Regions from separate parts of the Homo sapiens genome. Here region 1 is linked to region 2. Evidence: fine-mapped expression QTL. A gene starts in region 2. The other region holds a variant in brackets. All regions are shown on one strand. Distances are from middle to middle. Region 1 overlaps LOC339166 (a long non-coding RNA gene). Region 2 holds the start of RPAIN (RPA interacting protein).

Region 1 (10,812 bases), 400 kb before region 2:
GGAAACCGTGCCTTTTCCTCACCTGAATTTCTCAGAGATATGGGAAAACTTCAGGCCTTGCATCTAATTTCTGGATGTAGACAGAGATGCTTGCTTTCTCTCTTGCCTCTTCTCCTGCATCTCTGATACCTGCCTCAAGAACCCGCTCCCTGCATAGCCTTTTCCAACAGCAGGACCAGGAAAGGAATTCAAGACAGAATCCATGCTCCCCAGGCCTGGCCCTCAAGCCTCTCCTACAGCACAGGCATGAAAGGGGCTCCTCGTCAGATCTGGCATCTTACGACCATGACAAGCCTCTGCAGAAACGGCTTCCTAAAGTAACATTGCTCCGAGTTCAAGTCCAGCCTGGCCAACATAATGAAACCCTGTCTCTACTAAAAATACAAAAAATTAGCCAGGTGTGGTGGCAGGTGCCTGTAGTCCCAGCTACTCGGGAGGCTGAGGCAGAATGGTGTGAACCCGGGAGGCGGAGCTTGCAGTGAGCCGAGACCACACCACTGCACCCCACCCTGAGTGACAGAGTGAGACTCCATCTCAAAAAAAAAAGAAAAGAAAAAGAAACATTGCTCCTTTTCCTCTGTATCATTGGAGACATTGGACATAATTGGGGTAAACAGGGGCTTCCCTCTGAACCTAGGCCACCCAATGGGAAACTGACAGTTCCCTTATAAGGGTCACGCTTAGCCACTTGGAATTTGGCTTTTTGCCCTCTGGTTGGTGATTTTAAGACATGAAAGAAAATGCCATTTATTTCACTGTTAAATATGCATTTTAAAGCAAAGTTATATATATACATAATTTAAAAATTCAGGCTGGGCACAGTAACTAATGCCTGTAATCCCAGTGCTTTTGGAGGCTGAGGTAGAAGCATCACTTGAGGCTAGGAGTTTGAGACCAGCCTGGGAAATATAGTGAGACCCTGTGTCTACCCAGAAAAAAAAAAAAAAAATTAGCCAGGTGTGGTGATGCATGCCTGTGGTCCCATCCACACAGGAGGCTGAGGTGGGAAGATTGCTTGAACCCAGGAGTTTGAGGCTGCAGTGAGCTATGATCATGCCACCTCACTCCAGCCTGGGTGACAGAGAGAGACCTTGTCTCAAAAAAAAAAAAAGTCAAAGGCTGTAGAAGGGCTTATGATGACAAGCAACCCCATCTCCTCCCCACCCCCAGGTGATACATAGTTTCCAGTGACAGGGAAGTGCTGGGAAGGGAAGAGCACGGTCCCTTTAAATAATACGGAAGTGGGGAAGGGAAGTGCTGCGTAGAGGAGGGCGTGGTCCCTGGCTAGGGCTCCACCCTCACAGACCTAGGTAAGGACAGGCATTTCCTGCCCAAATGTTGCATTTCCCAAGACCATCCTGGCCTACCACGCCCCCATCCTGGGCCTATAAAAACCTGAGACCCAGGTGGGCACGTGGTGGCTCATGCCTGTAATCCCAGCACTTTGGGAGGTCGAGGCGGGAAGATCACCTGAAGTGGGGAGTTCAAGACCAGCCTGACCAGGCTGAAGCAGGAGAATTGCTTGAACCTGGGAGGTGGAGATTGAGGTGAACCGAGATCGCACCATTGCACTCCAGCCTGGGCAACAAAAGCAAAACTCCACCTCAAAAAAAAAAAAAAAAACCTAAGACCCTATCGGGCAGACAGGCAGACGTTGAGAGGAGCACATGGGTGGAAGAGACAAGCAGCTGGATGTCCTTGAGAGGACATGGAGAGGAGCACACCAGTGGAAGAACACACGGTCAGGCACCAGCACCCTGGCCGGCCATTGACCAGCAAAACAATGCGGAGCTGGGATGGAGCAGTCCGAGAAGAGTGGGGCGTCCACCTGGCCCGACTCCAGGGGAAAACCATCTCCCTTCTGGCTCCTTCATCTGCTGAGAGCTACTTCCTCTCAATAAAACCTTGCACTCATTCTCCAAGCCCACGTGTGATCCGATGCTTGTGGTATACCAAGGCAAGAAACTGTGGGATACAGAAATCTCTCTGTCCTTGTGATAAAGCAGGGGCTCTAATTGAGTTGGTTAACACAAGCCGCCTATAGACGGCAAACTAAAAGAGCACCCTGTAACACACGCCCACTGGGGCTTCAGCTGTGAACACTCACCCCTAGACACTACCATGGGGTCAGAGCCCCCACAGCCTGCCTGTCTGTATGCTCCCCTAGAATTTCAGCAGTGAGGCACTGAAGAGGTGAGCCACACCCCCAATGCACACCCTGCGACGGGGACAGGGGAACCTTGCCCGTTTGACCAGGACTCAGGAAATGCTTGTTGATTGACACCTTAATATTTCTACTTATCAGCTCAGAACCTAATGATGTAGAAGTGGAGCTTTTCCTCTTTCATTTTATTCAACATCACTTGTGAAATGTGGGGTTTATGCTGGGTGGAGGAATAAGACAAAGATGAATTAAACATGGTCTTCCCACCTTGAAATCATCTTTGTCTAGCGGCCGGAGGGCTGGGCATTGGGCATTAAAACGGATATTTATAACGCCAGAAAGAAGGACATAACTGGCAAAATACAAGTACCAGTGAGTATTTTGGGAATCCAGTGAAAGCTCCCAGGGGCTTAGGATGGGAGGAGTTGGGTGGGGCATGGGCCGCTGGGCACCAACATTTCAGCCAAACCTTGAAGAATGGTAGGGAAGACATGAGCCAGTTCTTGTAAGTGGAAAATTTCTGGAATGCTGGGGGAAAGCATGCTGGAGTCCAGACCAGAGAGGGCCAGAAACTCTATGACCTTCATCCTCCATCCCCTGGGGAGCCGTATTTCAAAGGGCCTAGATTTCCTCATCTATTAGATGGGAAAAATAATACCAGCCAGATTACATGAGTTAACACACATAGAGTACTTGCCACAGTGTCTGGAAAATAATCAACTCAATAGATCTTAGCTAAGAACCCTAATTCCTTCCTGCATCCCCCACCCCACCTACCACAGACATTCCTGACTGCAGTCCCTTTTCCCCCCAAGTTCAAAACAGCAGACTGTCTCACCAAGATCCTCACCTGAGCTAAAGGAGGTGCTTGTTACCGGAAGGCACTGGCATCTGAGAACAGGCAGGGCCTGTGCTCCAGGAAGTCTCTTTCCAGGGGTGTCTGGTGCATGTCTGCTCAGGAACCCCTACCTGCAGGACTGCCTCCCCAGTGACAACTAGTTCGGGGCTTCTAAAGCAGATGCACAGGTCTGAACCCATGAGGTGGTGTCTGCACAGATAAGTATTCCCTCTGCGCAGCTTCCATGAAGGCTGGTTGGAAGAGTGATTTTTTTGCAAGTGGTATGTTAGCTTCATGGAGTTGCTGCCTTTAGTCTTTGTCTTCTTATTAGAACTACTGGTTTGACCTCAACCCAAAGCTCCAGGTATGAGTCAGACTGTGTACCCTGCCCCTCCCCAGCATGGCATAGGGAGAGAGAGAATGACTCGTAGGTCTGGCAGGTCCCTAAAAGTGACCTCGTCTGATCAATGAGGCGATGACTGACTAACCTCCCTCCTAGGAGACTGTCTAGTATCTGCTAGCATACCTCCAGCGATGGGGGTCTCACCACCACTCCAACCCCATCATTCCATAGGTGAATAGCTCAGACTGAGACAAATCTTTTATGTTGAGCCGAAATCTATCCATCTGGGGAAGGGTTAATGAGACAATCGCTAGGCCCTCCTTGTCAGCCCTCCCGATTCCTGCTTCCCCCACTCCCCCACTCTGCCTAGAAGCATTAATTCCATTATCAAACGGTCAGCCCTGGGGAATGAACTTTTAAAGGCTTAAAGCAAGGTAGGTTAATTAAAATCTTTGATCAAAGTCCCATAAACAGCATAAAACTCCTCTCTCTTAATTATCCTGGATGGTCTTACAAGCATTAAAGCCAAAGGGGAGAAGATGAAGAGGCAGGGAGGCGAGGAGCTGGGAGGAGAATATTCCAGAAAGCAACAGCCCCAGGCCGAGGCCACCAGATTGCTGCTGCCATCAGGGCCCCACACTGGGCAATCCAGGGGAAGCCAAGAAACCTACCCTTGCTTAGCTAACATTTACCCACAAAGCACTTCCTAGATCAGTTGCTCTGCCAGATGCCAGGAGTAGTGGAAGAAATACCCAGATCCTCCCCTGAGAAGGGGCCAGGGTCCTCTGGGAGAGACCCCAAGAAGAGCAGGCAGGCGGGAGGAGACTGCATAGCGGGAGTTCCTGGCCCAGCCCGGGAGGGTCAAGGAAGGCCTCCAGACGAGGCGGCCTGGAGCTGGGACTGTGTGCTGGAGTCAGTGATCTAAGTGTCAGGCAGAGTGGAGCAGCCTGGAGGTGAGGAGGTGCTGGGTAGGAGTGGGAGGAGGGCTGTCGAGTAGGCAGTGGTAAGAGATAGAGAGGGGAGCAGGGTGGGGGCACGGAGCACATGGTGTTGAGGACAGTTTCCAGAGGCAGTGGGGATCACCGAGCTGTTTGAGTATCTCTCCAGTCTCATCTCTCACCACTGCCTAATAGAAAGGCCAGTCTACATCGTAGGGAGAATGGGTGGGCATGGGGAGAGCGAGCCGGGGGAAGGAAGCCCAGGTTGCTGACATTGTCCAGGTGAGAGAAGGTACTGCCCAATCTCAGGTAATGGCAGGAGAGGGGGTGAGGGGGGAGAAGTAGATGGATTCGAGAGATGTTTG[G/C]GACAAGTCAGCAGAATCCAGGTGATGGCCAGGCTTCCTTCTGAGGTGTCTGGGTGGGCGATGGCCCTCACTGAGAAGGAGAGTAGGTTGAGGGCTGGAGGTTTAGTTTTGGACACTTTGGGTGTGATGGGCCAGTGATCAACTCACATTCCCACCTCTCCCACCCACCCACCCTCAACTAAAACCCTTGATGACTACCCACATCTCTCAGGAAGAAGTCCAGAATGCTCAGGAGGGCTCTCTGGGCCCCACTGGACCTGGCCCAGGGCTCTCCCTGCAGGCTTACACTGCGCCTTCCCTTCCTGGCCAGCTTCTCTCCAGCCATAAGGACACTTGGTCTGATCTATAAGTGCCCCAGGCAGCTTTCTACCTCAGGGCCTTTGCACATTCTCTTCCCTGGGACTGGAATGCTCCTTCTCTCCGTCTCTCCCTCCACTCATTCTTCAGGCCTCACTTTTATCATCTGACTCACAAGGAAGGCTTCTCTGACTTCACCCCATCAAGGACCAGAGAGCTGGTTAAAAGTACAGACTCCCTAGCCCCACTCCACTCTATGCCCAGATTCTGATTCAGCAGCTCCTGATGGGGGCCTAGGATTCTGCATTTTAGCAAGCCTCCCAGGTGGTTCCAAAGCCATAATCCACAAACGAAGATCTGAGAAGCCCTGCACTGCAACGTCCTGCCTCCCCTGGCAGGAAACCTCAGCCACTGCGTAGCTCAGAGGGCAGCCATGGAGCCTCAGCTGCACCCTCCACTCTCCATATTCTCCATTCCATTTGACATACATGTCAATCATTAACATGATATGATGTTGATTGTAAAAATACTTTTAGATGTGAGAAACTCATGCTTTTGTAGACTTATGTAAAATATTAATAAGAGCATCCTTAGAAAACTCTGCTATTTTTATTGATCGGTATTAACACACAATCCAAATAAAATCAACATCCTTTCTCTGGAATTACAACTTCAAAGGACTACTCTGGCCCTCACCTCCTAATCAGATGGTTCTCCTTCCACCTCTGTGTATAGAAATTCTGACATGATGATGTTGAAATTTCCCTAAGCCCTGTGTTTTGCAAAAACAGTGATGGTTAAGAAGTACCCACATCCCTTCTGTGTTTGGGAAAACAGCTCACTGCAAAGAACCACCCTCCCCCATATGACTTAGATAAGACTAGCGAATGACCACCTTGTTAACCCGGGACAAGGCCAGACACGGACTTTCTAAATTCCCATTCTTTTTCTCATAAATGGTTGGCTGAATTGTTTGTCCTCCTGAAGCCAGCTAGACAGAGAGAAACATTTTCTGTTCAGCTGATTGATGAAGACTCTCTGAATACAAAAACAATCCTAACTGTAATATCACCCTACCTATAACTTGGCTATTCCTCCCTCTAAACGTCTATAAACCACCCTGAAGACACACTCTCATCTTCGGATCTCGGGTGCGCTCCATATTACATAAATAAAATCCATTTCCCTATGTGTTTGGTTTTGTCTTTGACAGGCACCACCACAGTTGGTATCTATATTTTGAGAAGATGGCTGACTGCCAAAATCAGAACAGGGAACAGGGACAAGGTCCCATGATGACCTCCAATTGGACCACTGGTTATTGCCTAGAGATGGGGGTTTCTGTGTCCAGGGGTCAAGGGCTATGTGAGCCTTTCTCTGAGTTCAGCAGTGAAGGGATGATGGGGCAGGTTGGGGAAGGCAAGGCATGGCACAGCAGGGGATCATGGGAGGAAAGGGTTCCGCAGACCCAAAGAAGCAGGGGCCAAGGGTCCAGACCTCCCTCTAGGCAGGTCCATTTCTAAGCACCCTGCAGCCAGGGCAGAGGCTGTGTGGCTGCTTCCTCTGGCAGTCACAGACAAATGGGAAATCAAAGCTTTCCTGAATCGCCACCATCCTATCTCAAATCCTGTATTGTGTCTGGCCATAGGAGTCTGCAGCCACCAAGAGAAGGTTCTGAATGAACGATACTCACTCTTCCCTGTCTTTGCTCAGGCTGCTTCCTCCACCTCAAATAAGCCTGCCCCTTCTCTTCAGGTCCTGCCCACTCTTGTAGGACTGATTCAAACACCTCCTCCTCCAGGAAGCCCTCCTGGCTGTTTCCCCATCTGAAATCTGAAATCTGGGGACTGTTCCTCCTCCAGTCCTCAGTTCTCCAATAGCACTGCAGTCTAGCCTTTACCAACATCTGCTGAGTCCCGTGAGGCAGCATTGCAGAGTGGGAAACCAGCAGGTCTTGGAACCAGAATGTGGGTTCAAATCTCCACTTAACTTCTAGGTGCCCTGTGGCCTTGAGCAAGTTGCTCAATTCCCACTGAGCCTCTGTTTTCTTGTCTGTAAAATGGGGATGACAAGCCATACAGGACCACCTGGGGATCTTGTTTGGCTAGGCATTCAGATTCAGGGGCCTGGGATGAGCCTGATTGTCTTTCTAAGAAGGTCTCAGGCAAAGCTGCAGCTACTGGTCCAGGGCCACACTTCCAGTAGCAAGACATCTTACATCCAGTTCCTGTGAGGAACACAGAGAGTGCTTTAAAAGGCCAAGCTCATATTAGCAGCTAAATAAGTGGGAGGCTTTATTAATACTATTATCATCTCCATCACCTGTGCCTGACATGCAGCTGGTGCTGGAAATAATGGTAGCTAGTTATCTCCCCTGCTACCTGCAAGTGTCTGGAGGGCAGGAAACGTGCCTAATTCCTCCATCAAAATGCCTTGCGCGTAGAAAGCTAAAAACCACGCTGCTGTGAAGGAAACAGCAAAGTCGCTTCTATCAGTCTTTGCAAAGGGGTCTGTCCTGTGTTCTGTGCATGACCGAGGAGAGACGCTGCCCACCGTCTGCCACACCCCAACCACTCTGTCCTGTAGGCCGAGTGCCAGCTTCCCCCAAAGCCTCCATCCTCAGAAGCCAGTTTCTCACGGAAAATGAGCTCCCTGCCTCCGCGCATCTGTACACTGAGGAAAACAGTTGGCTTCATAACCTTGAGGGGGAAAAAAGACAAATAAAGGAGTCTCCAGAGATTTATCAGAGACCACAGGAAGCTGTAAAACATATGTTGCAGCATATTGATCTTTGACAAACTCCAGCAACAGAGGAAGTCCTTTCCCGCCTACACTGCCTAATGAGGACCTAGGGGCAGAGTCCTCCTCCCCTCTCCCCCTAGCAGGGTTCCATCTGTGAGCCTCCATCTCAGGCCTGTCAAGCCGGCTGGAGATGAATCCACACCCAGCTGAGAGCCCCTTCTGCCTCCAAGGCCCTGAGATGCAGGTGCGAAGCCCATGCGCCAGCATTCCCAGCCCTCAGTGGCACAGCCCAGTTTGTTCCCCGGGTGCTTTGGAGCCCTGCCTTCAAGAGCCATGAGGTTACTTAGGTCCATTGCCCCAGAAATGGGTAGGGCAGTTGCAGCTTGGAACAAGTACTTCTCTACCCTGGTTACCCATTTGAATCCCTTCGGGAGCCTTAAAAATATATGGATGCCTGGAACCCACTGTCAGGAATTCTGAATTCTGGGGTGCTGCCTGAGCATCAGGGTTTTTAAAAGCTCTCCAAGTGATTCTAATGAGCACCCCACAGTGCAAACCCAGGAATAAGTGTATTGCTCATATTTTACTTTCAAAATGGAGCTTTTAAAGACCTCCCTGTAACAATAGTCAAAGTATTTTTTATTTGCAAGAGAAAGAGTTTTCTTTGCAAATGCCATCAAAACAAAAAAACAAAACAAAGCCAAAGCCTCTAAAGCCAAGATCACAGAGTTGAGAGGATGCTAAACAGGAGGCGAGAGCAGTTTTTCCACTCAAAAACAAATCAAATTCTCTTAGAAGAAGAGAGAAATTTGGCCGAGCACAGTGGCTCACGCCTGTAATCCCAGCACTTTGGGAGGCCGAGGTGGGTGGATTGCTTGAGGTCAGGAGTTCAAGACCAGCCTGGCCAACATGGTGAAACCCCATCTCTCCTAAAAATACAAAAATTAGCTGGACGTGGTGGCGTGCACCTGTAGTCCCAGCTACTCAGGAGGCTGAGAAAGGAGGATCACTTGAACCCAGGAGGCAGAGTTTGCAGTGAGCCGAGATCACGCCACTACTCCAGCCTGGGCAACAGAGTGAGACTCCATCTCAAAAAAAAAGGAAGAGAGAAATTTGAAAGATCAAGCAAGGTGGCCATAGATTTTTCCTTGGCCCCCAGAAAAGGCTGGGAGCAGAGTGTCTTTTGTCTGCTTCCCACCCAGAACCCTGGCAGCCACTGAGAGGAATGAGGGGTGATATCAAGAGAGTACAAGTGGTAGCTGAGAAGGGGGTGTGGAGGAACCCTCTTCCTGAGTTGTTCTCACCTCCTGTGTGGTTCAGAGACCCGGCCGGGCTGGACTCTAAAGACTGTTATTGCAGTCCAACCTCCCAGGCCTCTGCAGCTCCTATTCCAGCCAGGGTGGGGTCTGGACAGCAGGGAACACTACTAGCAGCAGCAGCAGCAGCAGCAGACACAGCCGGTGCAGAGGCTGCCCCCAAGGACCAAGGTGCCAAAGAGTAGTATCGAGACCAAAGGAATGGGAGTGGGTGCAGGAGGTGAGACCGTGTCACCTGGAAGTGACTGAGCAAGAAGTTACTTTGAATAAAAAATTGGCTTGTTTCTGCTGAGTGGAAATGGTAGAAATTCAGGACCAAGCTAAGCTTGGTTATAAAAAAAAAATGAAGAAAGTTACATTTCTGCTGCACATCTGAGTGTAACTATAAATCTTAAATCCACTGTGAGGTCCATTCAGAAATGAAGAAATATACACGGCCAATGAATAGGAAGAGATGCTCAGCCTCAGCAGTAATCCAAGAAACACAAATCAAAACACTGGCAATGCACCATTTGGGCCTCTCGGCTGGGAGGCATTTTAAAATCTAATACCTGTATCAGCAAAGGTAAAGAAGCCAGGTTCTGACAAATTGATGGTGAAATGCACGTTATCTTTCTGAGGGACAACTGGGTAATAAGAATTAAAAGAATTCTAAGTATACTTTTGGTGTAGCAATTCTAGGAATTGATCCTGAGGAAATAATCAAGAATCACAGAAAACTTTGGGAGCTTTAAAAATATACAGATGCCTGGAACCCGCCGTCAGGAATTCTGAATTCTGGGGTGCTGTTAGAGGGTTGTCCATTAGAGTTTCTATCATGATCCTGAAAAATCAGTGGACAAAACCCAAATAGCCAATGACTTAGGGCTGGACAAAAATACACTACACTGTAAAATATTTCAAGAAATAATATGAACCATTACAATAATTTTTTTTTTTTGAGACGGAGTTTCGCTCTTGTTGCCCAGGCTAAAGTGCAGTGGCGCAATCTCGGCTCACCGCAACCTCCACCTCCCGGGTTCAAGCAATTCTCCTGCCTCAGCCTCCTGAGTAGCTGGGATTACAGGCATGCACCATCACGCCCGGCTAATTTTGTATTTTTAGTACAGACGGGGTTTCTCCATGTTGGCCAGGCTGGTCTCAAACTCCCGACCTCAGGTGATCCACCTGCCTCAGCCTTCCAAAGTGCTGTGATTACGGGCATGAGCCACCATGCCCAGCCCCATTAAAATCATTTTAGAAATATGTTTAGAGACTTGGAAAGGTGTTCACATTAAGATTAAAAATAGTGTGTTTATTGATTTCCAATCATTGCATACATATATAATATAGTGAGAAAGAATTAATATATATGAAGTAATGGAAGGACCTACCTCTGTAATATTAACAATCATTTTTCCTAAGTAAGAGCATTATTACTGTGGTTACATTTATTTTCTTTCTTTCTTTCTTTCTTTTTTTTTTTTTTGAGACAGAGTCTCCCTCTGTCACCCAAGCTGGAGTGCAATGGCATGATCTTGGCTCACTGCAACCTCCGCCTCCCGAGTTCAAGTGATTCTCCTGCCTCAGCCTCCCAAGTATCTGGGACTACAGGTGCACACCACCACACCTGGCTAATTTTTGTATTTTTAGTAGAGACAGGGTTTTACCACATTGGCCAGGCTGGTCTCAAACTCCTGACCTCAGGTGATCCACCCGCTTCAGCTTCTCAAAGTGCTGGGATTATGTGTTATTTTCTTAATTATATTTTCTAATTTTGCTACAGTAAACATGTATTATTTGTAATTTTAAAAAGTTAAAGTTGGCGCA
Region 2 (10,812 bases):
CTAAAGTATTTGCTATCTGGCTCTTCACAAAAAGTCTGCCAACTTCTGCTTTAGAATGTTCCTTATGGCTGAGTACAGCACAACACAGTAAATCCTTGTCACTTCAGACTTATTAGTTAAGTATGCCCCAAAATAAAACATTTGGTCAGGCTTATGTTTCACCACTAAGATAGGTTTTGTAGGTGGGGGAAGGGAAAATCAATAAAAAAAGATGATAACTTAAGGAATTTACAGTCTAACCAGAGTCGACAGCAACAGTCATTAACAACTAACACTTGCATGGCACTTATGTGTCAAATGCTATTTTAAATTCCTTACATATATTAACTTCTTCACTATTATTATCCTTATTTCAAAGGTGAAGAAACTGAGGCACGGGGAAATTAAGTGCTTTGGTCGGTGCCACACAAATTAAAGTAGTAAAGCCAAGTGAATGTTAGAGGTATGACTCAAGAGCTTGTGCTCTTGCCTCACCATAATAATAGCTGTTGATTATTGAAAGCTCTCTATATGCCAGACAATGCACTAAGTCTTCTACACACGTTATTTAAGCCTTACAACAAATTTATAGGGTATTCTCTCCATTTTATAGGTCATAAAAATGAAGCCTAAGGCTGGGGGCCATGCCTCATGTCTGTAATCCCAACACTTTGGGAGGCTGAAGTAGGAGGATGGTTTGAGTCCAGCTGTTTGAGACCAGCCTAGGCAACATAGTGAGACCCTGCCTCTACAAAAAAATTTAAAAAATTAGGCTAGGCATTTTGGCTCATGCCTGTAATCTCAAAACTTTAGGAGGCTGAGGTGGGGGGATCACTTGAGACCAGGGAGGAGTTCGAGACCAGCCTGGGCAACACAGTGAGACCCTGTCTCTACAAAAAAATAAAAAAATTAGCTCGGTATGGTGGTGCACACTTGCGGTCCCAGCTACTCGGGAGGCTGAGATGAGAGGATTGGTTGAGCCTAGGAGGATGAAGCCACAGTGAGCCATGATTACATCACTGCACTCCAGCCTGGGCAACAGAGCAAGAACCTATCTCAAAAAAAAAAAAAATACATAAATAAAATAATTTTTTGTCTTGTTTTTATCATCTTTAGCTAAAAAAAAAAAATTAATAAAAAAAAATTAGCCAGGGGTGGTGGCACACGCCTATGATCCCAGCTATTCAGAAGGCTGAGGTGGGAAGATCGCTTAAGCCCAGGAGGTCAAGGCTGCAGTGGGCCGTGATCACGCCACTGCATTCCAGCCTGGGCAGAGACCCTGTCTCAAAAAAAACAAAAACAAAAACCAAACAAGGCCTAATCAAATCAGGGCTACATGGAATAAATGACTTAACTATATAAGGTACAAAATTATGCTCTCTACACCATGCTATGGACACCTCCCTCAAGGAGTGGATGCTCACAGGCCCTGGGGAGTTAATAGAGAATGTGGCACTTAAAATGAATAGGGCAAGGGATCAGACCATGCACTATCACTGTATCCTGTAAAATGGCAGGTTTACTTTTTTTTATTTTATTTTTTAAAGTGACAGGGTCTCCCTCTGTCAGCCAGGCTGGAGTGAGGTGGTAAAATTATAGCTCACTGTAACCTTAAACTCTTGGGTTCAAGTGATCCTCCTGCCTAAGCCTTCTGGCTGAGGGAGGCTACAAGTATTTGCTACCACACCCAGATAATTTTTTTTTTTTTTTTTTTACTTCTGTAGAGACAGGATCTTGTTATGTTGCCCATGCTGGTCTTGAACTGGCCTCAAGCAATACTCCTGCCTCAGCCTCTCAAAATGCTGGGATTACAGGCATAAGCCACCACCCTCAGTGAACTATTAACCCATTAATAGAGAGGCAGGATGGTAGAAGAAACATGGGAACTGGATTCATACAACTGATTTTGCTTCCCATCTCCTCCACTTACTAGCTGTATGACCTGCACGAGAACACCAACCACCTTCTGTTCTAATACTACTATCTTACAGGGCAGTCACATGGAGAAAACAGCATCATTAAATGAGAAGTTCTTAGCACAAGGTCTAGCACCCTGGAGACCCTTATTATTGAGAAGCTAGACAGCCAAGATGTCAGAGTACAAAAGGAGTCTTTTGGACACTTGACTGATGGAGGTAGACAAAGGGGACTTATAAACTAATCCTGATTGGAGGAAAGGTCACAGTATTCCAGTAGCTAAATACAGGTAAGGAAGGACTACCACTAGGGGTTACCTTGGTTGATCAGCTCCTGTTGAATTTCCTCCAGCACAGCCATGTCTATCAGCTCCTCCAGCTGGAAGAGAAAGGAGCGGCATCAGAAGTTTGAAGTATTAATCACCAACCAAGCCCCACAGTGATTCATACTTGGAGGCTGGCTTGAAGAACCCAGATTTATTGGACAAAATCAGTCCAGTCCTCCTGCAGAATATGCTGACAGTGGGGTAATGCTGTCATGCTGACAAGCCATCAACAAATGATCCAACTATCCAGTGACAAAATAATGGTACCCAATTTTGGAGAGACGATATAGGGTAGCAGTTAGGTACATATTCTTCCAAGGCTACGTAACCACATGAAAAGTTCCTAATCTCTGCAAATCTCAGTTTTGGCCTCTGTAAAGTGGGAATAAAATCTATCTAAGAGGGTTACTGTGAGTACTAGTTGTGGTGATATAAGGCAAACATTGGTGTACTGCAGGACACACAAAAGCCACTGAATAATGCATCATTATTACACAGGGTGTTGATGGTTTCAAACAGTTGCCCACATTTTCTTACACAGTCCTTACAATGCTGAAAACATTATCTTCTCATTTTATAAATGTGAAAACTAAACCTCAAAGAGGCAAACTGAAGTTAACAGTCAATAGCCAAACCAGGATTTGAATTCTGGAACTCCTGACTTCGAATCCAGTGTTCTTCCTGATACACTATAAATGGTTTTCCCTTCCACACATGGCTGCCAACGTTGGCTGAGATTAGAATCGGAAAGTTTCTGGAGACCTTTTTAGAAAGAGATTCCTGACGTGGGCAGATCACTAGAGGTCAGGCGTTCAAGACCAGCCTGGCCAACATGGTGAAACCCCATCCCTGCTAAAACAGAAACAAAATTAGCCGGGCATGGTGGCACACATCTGTAATCCCAGCTACTTGGGAGGCTGAGACAGGAGAATCGTTTGAACCCAGGAGGTGGAGGTTGCAGTGAGCCGAGATCTTGCCACTGCACTCCAGCCTGGGCGACAGAGCAAGACAGAAAAAAAAAAAGAGCGAGAGAGAGGGAGAGAAAGAGATTCCTAGCCTATGCCTACTGAATCATAATTTCCAAGGGTGGAGGCAAGAAATGAAATTTCTTTCTTTTTAGTTTCATAAATGATGATGTTGCAGTGATGAGCAGGTCTACGGTCTGGTATTTCAGACCATTTCATCTAGACAAGTCTAACATTAAGTGTAGAAAAGCCTGGGTTAAAGGCTGTTGAATTCTAAATGGGGTTAGGGGAATGGTGGGTTTAGAGGACTCAAGTAAACAAATAAAAGAGGACACGAGCCGTTCTTGGTGGTGCAGTCCCCCTCCCTGAAAACACATAGCCCAGCCTGACCTGAGCCAAGTCTTCTGGACAATTCTCCACTGACTGCAAAGCATTCCACTCTTCTTCCATCACCTCTTGAACTAGAAAGCTGTTCTGAGAATTCCCTGGCCCACTGCTTCCAGCCTGGCGGTACCTGTTTAGGAGCCTGTCCCGGCTGTTTCTCATTCTCTCCAGGCATCTCTGGGAAAAAAGAGCAAGATTGGGGGGGAAAAAAAAAGCATTTCTATTTTTAAAAAACACTCTTACATTAGTTGAGAAAACATTAAAGAAAGTTTATAGACACAAAATTTCAATGATAATACTAACTAGTGTTACTTTTGCATATTCCTCTGTAGAGATACATAAAATTACAATGCTTTGTACACGTATTTACAAAGAACCATATTTTTTATTCTAGCTTGCCAGTTTCCTTAATGGTTGTGTGCATAATATCTCAGCATCCAATGTCCTATTACAGAACATTTATATTCCTTCCAAATTCTTGCTACTCTAGATATGGCTGGGTAACGGCCTTCCTGCACAGCAGCGTTTCTGAACTCAGGGAGGTTTTGTCCCCCAAGGAACATTTGGCAATGCTTGGAGACATTTCTGGTTGTCACAATTCTAGTTATAGGACTATTAGCATCTAGTGGGTGGAGGCCCGAGACGTGGCTTAAACAACCCTCCACAACATATAAATATCTCCCTCAAAATGTCCATTGTCAAGGCTGAGAAACTCTGCTGTATCTGCTATCTTTCTTGCGTCGGGTTACTTTCTTGGACATTACTTACTAATAACCACACTGTGTTCAGAAGAGGCCAGAACTGAGGTGGAGCCCTCTTCTAAGCCTCATTTTACTACTCTCTAGAATAGAAATCATCTCTATCTCACAAGACGAACGTAGACAAAGTGCCTCTCTCGGTGGCCACCTCCGCAGCAACAGTAGGTAGTGTTATTGCAGAGGTGCAAACGGTGATGTCCTGACCACAATTTAAATTCAAAACAAAATCGAATCCAAAAACAAGGCTTTCTAGGACTTGACCGACCCGGGCTAATCCCACACTCTACAGTCAGCAGGCCTGGGTTTGACCAGACCAGGCGCGCTGCGGCACCTGCTCCACGGAGCAGGGCTAAGGCGAAGGCAGGGAAGACGGCGGTCACCGGGACGATCTAGGGTAGACCACTGCACAAACCCCATACCCACCTGCCGGAAAGCCTCTTTCCAAGGCGGCGAGCCCACCAGTTTGTACAGGGAGCGGCGCGGAGACCTCAACGACTCCGCCATCTCCTCTTCGCGGGAGACAAAGCCACAAGACCCGTTCCCTGGAGGCGCGCACAGACCCCTGGGAGGTGTACTTTCCGGGTGCAGACCGCGAATGGATCGCAGCGTATTCTGGGAAGTGTTGTTTTATCGACCGGCCCCACGTGGAGACAGATTTAGGCATCCAAGCGAAATGCGTGAGGCCAGCCCGACCTGCACTGAGGGAGGTAAGTCTTGAGGGAAAGTTCTGGATGCCTGGGTTTACCCAGATGGAGGTGTCCAATAGGCAATTAGATACACAAGTCTCAGGCTCTCCCCAGGTGCTAGATTTCCAGCAGCACCACCATTATGTTGACTTCTCGTCCCGCCCCCTTGGGCTTCAGAAATAATGGTGATTGGCTTTCCCTTGGTGACGCCCCTGCTTGGTGGGCTGGCCTCGCCTTCGCCCCCCGACCTGGCACGAGCCTCTCGAGCTTCCGGGCCGTCTGCTCGGTGATTGGCCGAAACAGTGAGTGGACGGCCGCGGATTGGCTGTGCTCAGCGGCGGGCTGAGCAACTGGAGTGAGGGGAGCAGTTGGGCCAAGATGGCGGCCGCCGAGGGACCGGTGGGCGACGGCGAGCTGTGGCAGACCTGGCTTCCTAACCACGTCGTGTTCTTGCGGCTCCGGGAGGGACTGAAAAACCAGAGTCCAACCGAAGCTGAGAAACCAGCTTCTTCGTCGTTGCCTTCGTCGCCGCCGCCGCAGTTGCTGACGAGAAACGTGGTCTTTGGCCTCGGCGGAGAGCTTTTCCTGTGGGACGGAGAAGACAGCTCCTTCTTAGTCGTTCGCCTTCGGGGCCCCAGCGGCGGCGGCGAAGAGCCCGCCCTGTCCCAGTACCAGGTAATGCCAGGCCGATCTTGGAAGTGACCCTCACCGGGATCGGAACCAGTCTTTTTTGTTCCTTGCTCCTCTTGGCTGTTTTTCATCTTGTGGCAGGCGTTCCAGCGGATTGACTCCGACGCTGCCATACGCGGTCGCGGGGACTCAGGCTCTCTCGATGCTTACGGCCTGGAGGCCTGGGAGGAAGGAAAGGGTCATTGAATATTCAATAAAAATACTAGTGACGGATGAGTGCTCTGGAGAAAAACAAAGCGGGCTAAAGGGGTTGAGAACGAGTGGGCGGAGTTGCTATTTTTAGTTTCGTCGAGAGAAACCTGTTTCCTGATGTGACGCTTATAATAGGTTAGATCGTAACTTTCTCTTGCGTTGTGCACAGCAAGTCAGGTTGCAGGTTTCAAAGCACCACGCTTCATGCTTGACATGGAGGAGGAAGTCTCTGTTAATTCTTACCCCCGTAACGCCCGCTTTAGAAAATAAAGCCATACCCAAAATGGGGATTTTTGTTTTTGATTAGCCGACAGCATGTGAAAATGGGTGTGATCCAGAAAGTATTACACACTTGCCGTGGTCAAATATTGGTTTATGGAAATGTTTATTTGTAATACACAGATTCTCTTAAAGATGAAAAAGAGCTTGGTACTCATTCTAAGGTATGACATCTGTTGTGTGCCCGGTCCAATTCTTGTTACCGAGAAGTGATTTAATTTTAATAAGACGCTAGCAATGCTTCTGCAGTTTTGAAAATAGGGCAGGAGTCTACAGTCTACTTATTTACCCAATTTCAGTTAAAAAGAATTATGAAGGCCGGGCGCGGTGGCTCACGCCTGCAGTCCCAACACTGGGAGGCAGAGGCAGGTGGATCACCTGAAGTCAGGAATTCGAGACCAGCCTGGCCAACATGGTGAAACCCCGTCTCTACTAAAAATACAAAAATTAGCCAGGTGTAGTGGCGCGCCCTTGTAATCCCAGCTACTCAGGTGCCTGAGGCAGGAGAATCGCTTGAACCTGGGAGGAGGAGGTTGCAGTGAGCTGAGATCACGCCCCTGCACTACAGCCTGGGCAACAGAGCAAGACTGTGTCTCAAAAAATAATAATAATTACCAAATGTGCAGCACGCAGTATTCTAATAACATTCTATACTGCTGTGTAGCATTTGACATAATCATAACTTAATTATTTATAATTATTTTGTGTCTTTTTTTTTTTTTTGAGATGGAGTTTCGCTCTTGTTGCCCAGGCTGGAGTGCAATGGCGCCATCTCGGCTCACCGCAACCTCCACCTTCCAGTTTCAAGCGATTCTTCTGCCTCAGCCCCCCCCGCGAGTAGCTGGGATTACAGGTATCTGCCACCACGCCCGACTAATTTTTGTGTTTTTAGTAGAGACGGGGTTTCGCCATGTTGGCCAGGCTGGTCTTGAACTCCTGACCTCGTGATCTGCTGGCTTTGGCCTCCCAAAGTGTTGGGATTACAGGCGTGAGCCACTGCGCCCGGCTGTTTTTGTTTTGTTTTGTTTTGAGGCAGGATCTCGCTCTGTTGCCCAGGCTGGAGTGCAGTGGTGCAATCTCAGCTAACTGCAACCTCCACCTCATGGATTCAAGCGATTCTCCTGCCTCAGCCTCTTGAGTAGTTGGGATTACAGGCCCACTCCACCGTACCCGGCTACTTTTTGTATTTTTAGTGGAGACGGGGTTTCACCATGTTAACCAGGCTGATCTGGAACTCCTGGCCTCAGGTGATCCACCCGTCTTGGCCTCCCAAAGTGCTGGCATTTCAGCCGTGAGCCATGGCACTCTGCCTCTGTCTTCTTTTCTAGACTGTAAGCTCCAAGGCAGGGGCTGGGTCTGCCCTTGTCATTTTTTAAAAACGTATTTTATTTTTTATTTTTGAAATGGGGTCTTTCTCTGTTGCCCAGGCTGGAGTGCAGTGGTGTGATCACGGCTCATTGGAGCCTCTACTGTCAGGGGTCGAGTGATCCTCCCACCTCAGCGCCTGGAAGTAGCTGGGACTACAGGCATGTGCCACCACGCCTGGCTATTTACTTATTTTTGTATGTCCAGCATACAGAAATGCTGGAGTGCCCAGAATTTATAAGCTTTCAGTAAATATTGGTGACTATCTCAATAACCTTCACTCCTCCAAAATCTCAAAACCTTAGAGATGGGGAAGAAAGCAGCTTATCATGAGTTGTAACTTTGGATGTTAAAAGCAAGCATGAGTAAGCTGGGTGTGGTAGCTGTAGCCTATAATCAGCACTTTAGGAGGCCAAGGTGGAGGCAGGTGGATCTTGTGAGCACGGGAACAGGTGTTCAGACCAGCCTGGGCAACATGACGAAACCCCCATCTCTACAAAAAAAACCTTTTTAATTAGCTGGGAGTGATGGTGCACACCTGTAGTCCCAGCTCCTCTGGAAGCTGAGGTGGGGAGGACACTTGAACCCCCATAGTAAAGTCTGCAGTGGGCTGCCACTGCACTCCAGCCTGGGTGACAGCAAGACTCTGTCTCAAAAAAAAAAAAAAAAATTTGTGAGTTAATGGTACAAGTGTGAGTACTTATCCAGAGTTTTATTATCCTATAATTGTAGTAAACTAAGTATTACTGTGATTTCAAGTAACTGCCACCTATATTTAAATTAAAATTAACTATGTTGACTGGTTTGCTCTAATTTTCAGAGATTGCTTTGCATAAATCCACCCCTGTTTGAAATCTATCAAGTCTTGTTAAGCCCAACACAACATCATGTAGCACTTATAGGAATAAAAGGACTTATGGTATTAGAATTACCTAAAAGATGGGGGAAGAATTCTGAATTTGAAGGTGGAAAATCAACAGTGAATTGTAGGTAAGTTGTATACTATTTATCTGTATAATTTATTATATATACAGAAAATTGTTCAAGACTAGTGGTTCTTAAGCATGTTTAGTATACTACTCTTAAAACATTAAAACACTCCTCGTGGTCTGCAGACTGGCTTCTGTGTTATCAATGTTCATAGTATATGTGTAATTGATTGTACTTTATTCTGCCTGAAGTACCACGTTGCTGTCTCATTTGAGGCTAGGCCATTCTTTCGATTAGGTAGAAGTAAGATTTTGTAAAACCAGTTATCTGTCAGCCAGAAGTTTGCCAGAAGTGTAAGTATTTTATGTGTGTGTGTGTGTGTGTATGTGTGTATATATATATATACTTTTTTTTTTTTTTTTTTTTTTGAGATGGAGTCTTGCTCTGTCACCCAGGCTGGAGTGCAGTGGCACAATCTCGGCTCACTGCAAGCTCCGCCTCCTGGATTCAAGCGATTCTTCTGCCTCAGCCTCCCGAGTAACTGGGATTACAGGCAAGCGCTACCATGCCCAGCTAATTTTTGTATTTTTAGTAGAGACGGGGTTTCACCATGTTGACCAAGCTGGTCTTGAACTCCTGACCTCAAGTGATCCACCCACCTTAGCCTCCCAAAGTGCCGGGGTTATAGGTGTGAGCCACCGCACCTGGCCTATTTTTATATAATTTCTTTTTCAACAAATCCAGAAAAGTGAATCTGAAAGATCTACTGAAAAGAGTACAGATGCTTTTCAACTTACGATTGGGTTATGTCCCGATAAACCCAGTGTAAGTTGAAAATGGATTTATTGCTGACAACACAGCAGAGGATCCCCGATTTAGGATGGTTCAACGTAGGATTTTTCAACATTATGATGGGTAACCCCATCATAAGTCGTAAGGAGCTCCTCAGTTTATGTTGGCTTATGTACTGGTAAACCCATTGTAAAGTTGGGGATCATCTGTATAAGGTAGAAACTGCTTTTAGCTCCGCAACTTATAAGTTGAGTCCCCTTAAACTGTTTACCTTCTAAATCTGTTTCCTCATTTTAAAAATAGGATTGATAATATCTGCCCTTGTAATTTCCTTACAGGGTTAGTAAAAAGATCAAATGAGATACTATATCTGAAAACACTTGTACTGTATAAATATGTATCAATCCTAAGTCAAACCATCCTAAAATGTATATATACGTATGAAATATGCTATAATTTGGAGCCAGGCACGATGGCTCACACCTGTAATCCCAGCACTTTGGGAGGCCGAGGCAGGTGGATCACCTGAGCTCAGGAGCTTGAGACCACCCTGGGCAACATGGTGAAACCTCATTTCTACTAAAATACAAAAAATAAGTGGGGTGTGGTGGCACACGCCTGTAGTCCCAGCTACTCAGGAGGTTAAGGCACAAGTATTGATTAAATCCAGGAGGCGGAGGTTGCAGTGAGCAAAGATCACGCCACTGCACTCCAGCTTGGGCCACAGAGTGAGACTTCATCTCAAATAAATAAACAAATAAAATTTAAATAAATAATTTAAATTATTAAAATAAATAAATTATTTATTTATTTTGAGACAGAGTCTGGCTCTGTAGCCCAAGCTGGAGTGCAGTGGCGTGATCTCAGCTCACTGCAACCTCCTCAGCCCGGGCTGGAGTGCAGTGGCACAAGCTCAGCTCACTGCAGCCTCCACCTCCTGGGTTCCAGCGATTCTTCTGCCTCAGCCTCACGGGTAACGGGTTACAGGCATGTGCCACCACACTTGCCTAATTCTTGTATTTTTAGTGGAGACGGGGTTTTACCATGTTGGCCAGGCTGGTCTCAAACTCCTGACCTCAGGTGATCCACCTGCCTTGGCCTCCCAAAGTGCTAAGATAGGCGTGAGCCATTGCGCCCAGCCAGTGTGCTATAATTTAGAAGATATTTTTATTTCAATTCTTTGATATTGATTGAATAGATGCCTTGAATGTCCTCTCAGCATGATTTCAGGGAAATAAATCTGAAGGAAAGAGAATCAAAGAGTGTTAAAATAGAAATTTCTTCAGGGCCTGGCGTGGTGGCTCATGCCTGTAATCCCAGCACTTTGCGAGGCCGAGGTGGGCAGATCACCTGAGGTCGGGAGTTTGAGACCAGCCTGACCAACATGGAGAAACCCCCTCTCTACTGAAAATACAAAGTTCGCTGGGCGAGGTGGCAGGTGCCTGTAATCCCAGCTACTTGAAAGACTGAGGCAGGAGAATCACTTGAACCTGGGAGGCGGAGGTTGCAGTGAGCCGAGATTGTGCCGTTACACTCCAGCCTGGGCAACA

What was found.
Region 1: its variant is fine-mapped to the expression of RPAIN in lymphoblastoid cells (GTEx, PIP 0.97).

What each region holds. Positions count from the first base shown.
Region 1 is chr17:5,813,850-5,824,661 of GRCh38, reverse strand. All of the region lies in intron 1 of LOC339166 (a long non-coding RNA gene), which reads right to left. Among named protein-coding and RNA genes, the nearest start is that of NLRP1, 230 kb to the right of the region's middle. The variant G/C (reference allele first, on the strand shown) is at 4,649.
Region 2 is chr17:5,414,231-5,425,042 of GRCh38, reverse strand. It overlaps RPAIN (RPA interacting protein), which reads right to left and starts at 4,861. Exons shown (of 7, transcript NM_001033002.4): 1 at 4,752-4,861; 2 at 3,577-3,747; 3 at 2,214-2,274. The coding sequence starts at 4,832. NUP88 (nucleoporin 88) reads left to right here and starts at 5,381. Exons shown (of 17, transcript NM_002532.6): 1 at 5,381-5,689; 2 at 8,361-8,530. The coding sequence starts at 5,393. RefSeq lists enhancers at 4,590-4,809, 4,820-4,939, 4,669-5,206, 5,207-5,744, 5,380-6,019 and 1 more.